Linked DNA regions of Homo sapiens: region 1 is linked to region 2. The links come from fine-mapping of genetic effects on gene expression. A gene starts in region 2. The other region holds a variant in brackets. All regions are shown on one strand. Distances are from middle to middle. Region 1 has its middle 21 kb from the start of HMOX1. Region 2 holds the start of MCM5 (minichromosome maintenance complex component 5).

What was found. PIP is the estimated chance that this variant, and not a neighbour inherited with it, causes the effect.
Region 1: its variant is the best candidate, but not a certain one, in a credible set for the expression of MCM5 in whole blood (INTERVAL, PIP 0.72).

Annotation. Positions count from the first base shown.
Region 1 is chr22:35,356,966-35,362,335 of GRCh38, reverse strand. No RefSeq gene overlaps it. Among named protein-coding and RNA genes, the nearest start is that of HMOX1, 21 kb to the left of the region's middle. The variant CA/A (reference allele first, on the strand shown) is at 2,559.
Region 2 is chr22:35,397,810-35,403,179 of GRCh38, reverse strand. It overlaps MCM5 (minichromosome maintenance complex component 5), which reads right to left and starts at 3,040. Exons shown (of 17, transcript NM_006739.4): 1 at 2,972-3,040; 2 at 2,575-2,749. The coding sequence starts at 2,741. RefSeq lists enhancers at 3,276-3,435, 3,446-3,495.

The DNA.
Region 1 (5,370 bases), 41 kb after region 2:
CCATCCCGCCCTGCTGGGCCACCTGTCACCTGGAGCACCATGCAGGCTCTGCACTGCCCAGCCAGGGCCCATTCACATGGTCCGAGTGTGGACGGCGCCCCTGCAGTTATATAACCCAGTGTCCTGAGTCCTGTGCTCCTCAGAGAGGCCTGGGATATCCATGTCTTTCCTCCTTTGTGGGGCTTGGCTCAAGTTCAAGCTCTGGGCCTGTCCCTCTCTTCCCCACCTCCACTACCTCACTCTGCCCATTCACTTTGGGGAACAGGGAAGGAGGCAGGTAGCAGAGCCAGGGCACTTTTATTTGTCAATAATTGTAAGTATAACTTTTTTTTTTTTTTTGAAATGGAGTCTCGCTCTGTCACCCAGGTTGGAGTGCAGTGGCGCAATCTCAGTTCACAGTAGCCTCTGCCTCGGGGGTTCATGTGATTCTCCTACCTCAGCCTCCTGAGTAGCTGGGATTACAGGTGCCCGCCATCACGCCCAGCTAATTTTTGTATTTTTAGTAGAGACAGAGTTTCACCATGTTGGCCAGGGTGATCTCCAACTCCTGCACTCAGAGGATCTGCCCACCTCAGCCTCCCAAAGTGCCGGGATCTAAAAATACAAAAATTAGCCAAGTGTGATGGCATGCACCTGTAGTCCCAACTACTTGGGAGGCTGAGGCAGGAGAATCACTTGAACCTGGGAGGCAGAGGTTGCAGAGAGCCAAGATTATGCTATTACACTCCAGCGTGGGTGACAGAGTGAGACTCCGTCTCAAAAAAAAAAAAAAAAAACCCCAAGAAACACAAAAAACAAAAAATTGGCTCTTGACCATCATGAGGGCCACCTGTGACAGTGTCTGTGGACCCACTGTGTCACCTGTCCAATGCTGGGAAGTGTTTGCTTCTCAAGGGCTCCCCAGCAGGCAGCTGTGAGAAAGGATCTCTATGAGGGTCCAAGGTCCTCTCTGAAGAAATTCCAGAATGTGCCCTGGACTTCTGGCGAGGCGGCATCCCCTGGGAAGGTGGCATGGGGGCGTGGTGGAAAGCCCCTGGCCTTTGGCATCAGACGGAGCTGGGTGCTGGACTCTGTACTTAACCCATATTGTGACCTCTTCACCCTGCAAAATCTCCATTTCTTTATCAGGAAAATGGGACTAATAATCCCGGCTTACCAGGGCCAGCTGAGATCAGGGGTGTAGGAGCTTCGTGTACCCAGTGTGTGGTACACAACAGGTGTTCAGCTGGGGACTCTTCTTCTCTTTTCAAGGAGAGGGCTGACTCTTGCTGAAAAATCAGTAACCACAGCTGGGCATGGTGGCTCATGCCTGAAATCCCAGCTATTTCTTGGGAGGCTGAGGCAGGAGGATTGTTTGAGGTCAGGAGTTGGAGACCAGCCTGGACAACAAAGCAAGACCCCTGTCTCGAAAAATGAATAATAATTGGGTGGGAGGGGATTGAGGGATGAGGAATTACCTACAGGGTACAATTTACGTTATTTGGGTGAAGGTTAAACTAAAAGCCCAGGCAATATATCCATGTAACAAAAATGCACTTGTGGCCGGGCGCGATGGCTCATGCCTGTAATCCCAGCACTTTGGGAGGTCGAGGCAGGCGGATCACCTGAGGTCAGGAGTGTAAGACTAGCCTGACCAACGTGGCAAAACCCCATCTCTACTAAAAATACAAAAATTAGCAGGGCGTGATGGCAGGTGCCTGTCGTCCCAGCTACTCAGGAGGCTGAGGCAGGAGAATTGCTTGAACCTGGGAGGCAGAGGCTGCAGTGAGGCGAGATTGTGCCACTGCACTCCAGCCTGGGTGACAGCGTGAGACTCTGTCTCAAGGAAAAAAAAAAAAAAGAAATGTTCAGTTTTTTAAACATTGACAATAGACTCAGTTAAAAAAAGAAAAAAAGAGCTGGGCACGGTGGCTCACGGCTGTAATCCCAGCACTTTGGGAGGCTGAGGGGGGCAGATCACGAGGTCAGATGATCGAGACCAGCCTGGCTAACACGGTGAAACCCCGTCTCTACTAAAAATACAAAAAACTAGCCAGGCGTGGTGGTGGGCGCCTGTAGTCTCAGCTACTCGGGAGGCTGAGGCAGGAGAATGGCGTGAACGCGGGAGGCAGAGCTTGCAGTGAGCGGAGATCAGGCCACTGCACTCCAGCCTGGGTGACAGAGCGAGACTCTGTCTCAAAACAAAACAAAACAAAACAAAAAAAACAAAAAACAACAACCACCCTCCACAAGACCTGACATGGCCCTGGGGCCACCACTTTGACTGCTCTGGGTTAGCTGGGTTCTCCGATCCCAGATTGCTTGGTTCCTCTGCAATTCCCGGGGCAGAGTGAGCCTCAGAGATGAGAATTCCTGCCTCCTCTTCCTGGACACATGATCACCGGTGTCAGTGGACATTCCCAGGTCACAGGCTCCCCACACACATTCTGTTCATGCCAAGAGCTCAGGGACCAGTGTCATCCTGTGCTGTGGACATTCCTAGGTCACAGGCTCCCCACACACATTCTGTTCATGCCAAGAGCTCAGGGACCAGTGTCATCCTGTGCTGTGGTCATTCC[CA/A]CCTAAATGAGGGCATCTGGGGACACAGGACATCAGGGACCAGTCCTCAGGAGTTTCACAGCTGGGCTGGGGTTCATGGAGACTGGAGTCTGGCAGGTTTCCACTACCTCCCTACCTACCTACCTATCTATCCAACTAACTAACCCCTTTTCCCCTGACTATTCCCTGTGGCTGGGAGGACAAGGGCTATGACTCATTTCTCGCTACGTACATCCTCAGAGCCTAGCACACAGTAGGCCCCTAGCAAGCGAGGATGACCGCGGCTACAGCCTCTACAGAGAAAAGAGGCAGGATTTGAAGCTCTAAAAATGGAGCCCAAATTTCTGAGCTTGGGAGATGAGGCTGAACCAAAGCAAATCGGGATCAAAGGAGAGAGTGGGCCTAAGTGTTTGCCTTAACTGCCAATCAGATTTTTAAAAAAGTAACCTGCTCAAAACCACACAGCTGGTAAGTTGTGAAGCCTGAGAGATGGTGCTTGTGTGTGTGTGGTTTTTTAAATTAATTGTAGTAAAATATACATAACATTTACCATTTTGATCACTTCTTTTTTTTTTGAGACGGAGTTTCGCTCTTGTCACCCAGGCTGGAGTGCAATGGCATGATCTCAGCTCACTGCAACCTCCACCTCCCGGGTTCAAGTGATTCTCCTGCCTCAGCCTCCTGAGTAGCTGGGACTACAGGCACGCACCACCATGACCAGCTAATTTTTTGTATTTTTAGTAGAGACAGTGTTTCGCCATGTTGGCCAGGCTGGTCTCAAACTCCTGACCTCAGGTGACCCACCTGCCTCAGCCTCCCAAAGTGCTGGGATTACAGGAGTAAGCTATCACGCCTGGCCCATTTTGACCACTTCTAAGTGTAAAGTTCAGTGGCATTAAGTACATTCCCACTGTACAACCATCACCACCATCCATCTCCAGAACTTTTCCATCATCCCAGACTAAACCTCTGTACCCATTAAACAATATGCCAACTAGATTTTATAGCTTAATTTATGGATCAGTGTCGGGGGGCTGGCCAGGTGAGATGGCTCCTATTGAAGGTGGTGAGTGCCCTGTCACTGGAGGTATGCAAGCATGGGATACGGGTTGGCTGAAACAGCACCATCAGTCTGACTCTACGTGAGTCTTTATGAGGTTTTTGTTGGAGGGGGAGACAAAAAGCCTTACATATTGCTAACTAAGCTGGGAGGTTTTCCTGTGTATTTTTTTTTTTTTTTAGTATGTGTGTGTCCCAGAGGTCATGATATGACTGGCAGTTACCTGTATCAAAAACAAACTGTCCAATAGTGAGGCTTCATCATACATCACACAACCTCCCATCTTGTCAGGCCAGTCTGAGACCAGTGCCCAGGCAGGGCAACTTCCTTCTCACTCGTGCTCCTGCCATCACCTTCCAGAAACGTCTACGAGCCCCCTTCCTCCTCTGCAAGTGAGGTTGGGTTGGGGAGTGCAGTGTATGGCAATGTGGTGGACACTGTTGATTGTCTACTCAACAGCCATCTCCTCTTCCCCTAGGTAACAGAACCCCAATTTGTTTGGGATCCAGATGGAATCATAGATTTAGGGAGGGTGTGCCCAGTGCCAGAGGTGAGTCATGGTTACTCTGAGGCAGAGATTCTAAGCCATCCTGTGGTCATCCCATTCCTCTTTGCCAGCGTAATTGTGCAGGTGGATTCCATTGTGCCGGATGAATGACCAGTCAGGAAGTTAGAGTAGCTTGTCTGAGGAGGTGACACAGTAGCTGAGCCCTGAAGGATGAATGAGTTAAGTCAGGTGGCCTGTTTTAGAGGAAATAGCACATACAAAGGCCCTGTGGTCAGGGCATGAAACTTTTTTTTTTTTTTTTTGAGATGGAGTCTCACTCTGTCGCCCAGGCTGGAGTACAGTGGTGCGATCTCAGCTCAGTGCAACATCCACCTCCCAGGTTCAAGTGATTCTCCTGCCTCAGCCTCCCGAGTAGCTGGGATTACAGGCATGCACTACCACGCCCTACTAATTTTTGTATTTTTAATAGAGATAGGATTTTACCATGTTGGCCAGGCTGGTCTCGATCTCCTGACCTCGTGATCCACATGCCTCAGGCTCCCAAAATGCTGGAATTACAGGCGTGAGCCACTGTGCCCAGCCCAGCATGAAACTTTTGAGGTGGGAAAGACAGCCTGTCTGGAGTGCAGAGAACCTGAAGAATGTGGCAGGGGACAGACTCCAGGGGCCCTGGAGGCCAGGCCAGGAGGTGGGTCTTTAGCCTGAGAGCAAGTGAAAGGTTTTAGGTGTGTGTGTTGGGTTTTGGGGGTGTGGGTATTGTAAAACATGGTCGGATTTGCCCTTTGAAATATATTTTCGGCTGGGTGCAGTGGCTCATGCCTGTAATTCCAGCACTTCGGGAGGCTGAGGTGGGAGGACCACTTGAACCCAGGAGTTGGAGACCAGCCTGGGCAACACAGTGAGACCCCATCTCTGCAAAAATATTTTTTAAAAAAATGACAGCTGGGCGTGGTGGGTCACGCCTGTAATCCCAACACTTTGGGAGGCCGAGGCAGGTGGATCACCTGAGGTCAGGACTTCGAGACCATCCTGACCTCAATATGGTGAAACCCTGTCTCTACTAAAAATACAAAAATTAGCTGGGTGTGGTGGCACGCGCCTGTAGTCCCAGCTACTCGGGAGGCTGAGACAGGAGAACTGCTTGAACCCGGGAAGTGGAGGTTGCAGTGAGCCGAGATCACACCACTGCACTCCAGCCTGGGTGACAGAGCAAGACTCCCTCTAAAAAAATAATAATAAATAAAATAAATAAATAAAAATAAAA
Region 2 (5,370 bases):
CAGGAAGGGTGCAAAGAAGAGGAAACCAACACTGGCTGAGGTGTGCCTGCACCCCTGAATCTGCCCACACCACAGCCACCATGACCTCACCATTCCTCTTCCCAAACACACATCTAATTCCAGATCATTCCATTATTTAACCCTGCAGAGGCTACTCACTGCTGGCACAGGCATGCCCTAAAGAAAGCTCCATGGAAGGGGTCCACAAGACAGTCAAAGGATGTTTCAACACCCAGGCCAGCGTGCACAAAACAACAAACCAGTTCTGTCACTGAAGGACTCCGCAGAGCCTTTAACTTCTCTTGGAAAAGAACAATGCACACAGCTCAAACTTGGGGCCCAGTGAGGTGGCTCATGCCTGTAATCCCAACACTTTAGGAAGCTGAGGAGGGTGGATTACTTGAGGCCAGGAGTTCAACACCAGCCTGGGCCACATGGCAACACCCAGTCTCTACTAAAAATACGAAGATTAGCCGGGCATGGTAGCATACGCCTGTAGTCCCAGCTACTGAGGCATGAGAATGCCTGAACCCCAGAGGTGGAGGCTGCAGTGACCAGAGATCTCGCCAGGGCACTCCAGCCTGGGCGACAGACTGAGACTCTGTCTCAAAAAAAAAAACCAAAAAGGTACCAGCCTCACCAACATGGAGAAACCCCATCTCTACTAAAAATACAAAAAAAAAAACCTAGCCGGGTGTGGTGGCGGATGCCTGTAATCCTAGCTACTTGGGGGACTGAGGCAGGAGAATCACTTGAACCCGGCAGGCAGCAGTTGCAGTGAGCCAAGATCACGCCACTGTACTCAAACCTGGGTGACAGAGCGAGACTCCATCTCAAAAAAAAAAAAACAAAAAACAAAACAACAAAAAAACTGGAGGCACCAAGGCAGCAGAAAACACATCTGCCTTATCAACCTCTAGTCAGACTGTTTTTTTTTAAATAGAGCCTGGGTTTCACTATGTTGCCCAGCCAGGTCTTGAACTCCTGGGGTCAAATGATCCATTGGCATCAGCCTCCCAAAGCGTCGGAATTACAAGCATGAGCCACTGCGTCCAGCCCAGATGCTTAGCAGAGCATCCCATGTGACTGCTGTGGCAAGAACATATTTGGGGACCACTGACCAACGCACAGGCTGTTCCCCAGCCTCGCAGTATCACAGGCCTGAGCCCCGTCTCCCTTATGTCCAGGAGCCAGTAAAATGGCCAGACTGCTACTGAAAGCCACTTGCTGTGAGGACACCCCACACCTCTACACAAGCAATTGCTCCTACCTAGACAGAAAGCTTTCTACACCTGCAACTCTGACCTTAGCTCAAAGGTCCCCTCAAACTTCAGCCCCCCGGAAAACTTCCCTAAGTCCTTTCACCTTCCTCTGTGGAGGAAATGACCACCGTGGAAGTTATCTGTTGGTCTTCACGACTCACTCCTCTGACTTAGGAGCTTCTCTAGGACAAGAAGCACGTCTTTTCATCTTTGTAGCGCAGTGCCTGGCACACAGGTGGGCAATATCAGCTGCTGCATGAGTAAGTGAAAGCAGGAATGGCTTTACCCATTTCTGGCCTGGTGAGGCCCAGAGACACTGACACCTGGAAGTCACTCAGCTAATAATGGGCCAGTGCTGAACCTGCAACCTCATGTTCTCTGCATTTTAACATTTCAGGGATAGAGGCCGGGCCTATGAGAATTCTCATGATGTCACAGGTCGTACAATCACCTAGAAGCAGGAGCCAGGTCCAGCTTCAGTGCTGCAGCCCAGCACCCAGAACAGTATCTGGCAGGCAGCAGGTGCTCAATCAATGAAGGTGCAAGACTGGTATAAATAAATGAATGAGCGAAGTGAAGTGAATCCTAACTGCCATCTTCACCTTTTACACCTACAGGGAACTTGAGTTTGTAAGGTCTCAGACATGACATGGAAGGATGATAGGAAGCAGATGAACAGGAACAAGATCTGGATAAAGAACTAAACGGTCCAAGTGGCGCTAGCTGGTTGCTGGTGGCCCACTCAACAGGTGACTCACCCAGAAGTTAACTCCAGGTACAGATAAAATACACAAAGCAGGCCGGGCACGGTGGCTCACGCCTGTAATCCCAGCACTTTGGGAGACTGAGGCGGGTGGATCACTTGAGGTCAGGAGTTCGAGAGCAGCCTGGCGAACATGGCGAAACCCCATCTCTACTAAAATTACAAAAAATTATCCGGGCGTGGTGATGGCGGGGGTAGTCCCACCTACTCGGGAGGCTGAGGCACAAGAATCGCTTGAACCCGGGAAGCGGAGGTTGCAGTGAGCCGAGATCGTGCCACTGCACTCCAGCCTGGCGACAGAGCGAGACTCCGTCTCAAAATAATAAACAAATACGTTAATAATAAAATAAAATAAAATAAAGTAAAACAAAATACACAAAGCCTTATACCAAGGCGTGAGGCTGCCGGGATGAGCCCTGTGACCCAGGACCGGCTCTTTCCCCCGTCTGGGCCCATCTGTGCCCTGACTGTCCAGGACTCTAGCAGGCTGGTAGAGGCGTGTGAGCGGCCACACTGGAACTCGAGCCCCCGGCCCCGCAGGAGCCGCACCTGTATTTGAAGGTGAAGCCCGTGCGGTCGGTGCCCACTCGGTACTGCCGCAGGAACTCCTTGAAGCGCCTCTGCAGCTGCGATTTGCGGGCCTGCCCCTCGTCGGCCTGGGCGTCGCCCCCGAAGCTGTCGCTGTAGAAAATGCCAGGATCGTCGAATCCCGACATGACTGCGCCTGGGGTGGGAACAAACGGCCAGAACAGGCTGGGGGCAGCGCCTGGCACCTCCTCCCCTCCGACGCCTGGGTCCCTGCCCTGAGTCCGGAGCAGGGGGACCCCCGGCCGCGCTCCCGGACTCCAACCCCAGTTCCCGAGAAACTCCTGTCCCACTCCAACTACACCCGGAAATCCAGATGCCTGCTGGCTCCCAGTCCCAGTCCCACTCCCACTAGCCTCACCTCTGGTTTTCCGCACTTCACAAACCAGGGGAGACAAGAACCTCCACGCTCAGCCGCCGAGTTTCGCGGGAAAAACAAGAGGCGGTGTTCGGACGCCGCAGCCGCTGCGCTCCCATTGGTTCGCCGGAGCCTCGCGGCCAGCGATTGGACCGTTCTGAGCCCTCCAGCCCCGCCGCCCGGACTGTCTGCCGAAGATGATTGGCTGCAAAGTGCATGACCTCGCCTCCTTCCGGGCTCCATTTTGTGTGCGGAACAATTTGGCGCGAAACTTCTGGCTGGGAAGGAAGTGGCGGCGCAGGACGGGGCGGACGCAAAGATGGCGGAGGGGCGGGCGCGCGGAGGACGCCTTTAGGTGGTTTCTTTTTTATTTTCTTGGTTTTTTTTTTTTTTTCCTGACGCATGGTCTCGTTGTGTTGCCGGGGATGGAGTGCAGTGGCTGGATCACGGCTTACTGTAGCCTCAACCTCTTGGGCTCAAGCAATCCTTCCGCCTCAGCCTCCCTTGTAGCGGGGACCACAGGTGTACGTGATTTTCTTAAAATATTTCATAAAGACGGAGTCTCACCATCTTGCCCAGGTCTCGAAACTCTACTCTCAAGCGACCCGCCTGCCTTGACGTCCCAAAGCACTGGGATTACTGGCGTGAGCTACCCGGCCAGGCCTGCGTGCTTTTCTTAAGCCTTCTTTTAAAGTCCTATGAAAAAAAATGACCCTTTTCATAGCCATAGGGAGAAAAAACTAGAAGTTCAGAAATGATTGGGTCCAGGTGCCCATTTTGCATTGGGAGACTGTGCCCTGTGGAGTATTCGCTTCCCGGTCGTGGGGCCCGTTCTCTGGGCCTGAGGCTCTGAGGAGCCCCTGTCCTCCAGCTGGTGGCAGGACAGGGCGATTACCGCGCGGCTCACCCGCGTCCCCGACCCGGGTTCTCGCACCCTAACACACTGCTTTTATTTGTTTATTTATTTGTTGAGAGGGAGTCTCACTCTGTCCCCCAGGATGGAGTGCAGTGGCTCAATCTCGGCTCACTGCAACTTCTGCCTCCCCGGTTCAAGCGATTCTCCTGCCTCAGCCTCCCAACTAGCTGGGACTACAGGCAGGCGCCACCATGCTCAGCTAATTTTTGTATTTTTAGTGGAGACAGGGTTTCACCATGTTGCCCACACTGGTCTCGAACTTCTGGCCTCAAGTGATCCACTCGCTTCGGCCTCCCAAAGTGCTGGAATTACAGGCGTGAGCCACCATGCCCAGACCGGCCTCATTCTGTTTAACAGCTGCTTAATTTTCTGTAGTATGGTGACAAAGACTCTCCTTGACCAAACTCTAGCCAGGTTCCTCTGGGCTCCCTTCACTTCTAAGCCTCAACCTTGATCTATAGGCACTGTGGCTCATGCCTGTAATCCTAGCACTTCAGGAGACCAAGATGAGAGGATCCCTTGAGTCCAGGAGTTGAGGCCAGCCTGGGCAACATAGCAAGATCCCGCTTCTCTAGAAATTTTTTTATAATTTTTTTTGTTTTGAGACAGAGTCTCACTCTGTTGCCCAGGCTGGAGTGCAGTGTCACGATCTCGGCTCACTGCAACTTCCACCTCCTGGGTTCAAGCAATTCTCCTGCCTCAGCTTCCCAAGTAGCTGGAATTACAGGTGTGTGCCACCACGCCTGGCTAATTTTTTGTATTTTTAGTAGAGACAGGGTTTCACCATGTTGGCCAGCCTTGAACTCCTGACCTCAGGTGATCCACCCGCCTGAGCCTTCCAAGATGCTGGGATTACAGGCATGAGCCACTGCGCCCGGCTTGAAATTTTTTTTTAATTAGCTGGGCATGGTGGAGCACACCTGTTGTCCTAGCTACTCAAGAGGCCAAGGTGGGAGGATGGCCTGAGCCCAGGAGTTTGAGACTGCAGTGAGTTTTGATTGCACCACTGCACTTCAGCCTGAGCGACAGAGCGAGACTCATCTCTAAAAAGAAAAAAAAGACAGTCCAGGCGCCGTGGCTCACACCTGTAATCCCAGCATTTTGGGAGGCTGAGGCGGGAGTTCAAGACCAGCCTGGCCAACATGGTGAAACCCTGTGTCTACTAAAAATACAAAACTTAGCCGGGCGTGGTGGCAGGCGCTTGTAATCCCAGCTACTTGGAAGCCTGAGGCAGGAGAATCGCTTGAACCTGGGAGGCGGAGGTTGCAGTGAGCCGAGATCGTGCCACTACACTCCAGTCTGGGCGACAAGAGTGAAACTTAATCTCAAAAAAAAAAAAAAAGAAAAGAAAAAAAGACTTAAACAAACACTAACAGTTTCTAACAGCTGCTAACATCTCTAAAATGACTCTAGCCAGCCCCCGCTAAGGTGCCTGCCTGAGAAAACTCAAGGCTGCTGGTAAATGTTTACCGTTTATTCCAGGCAA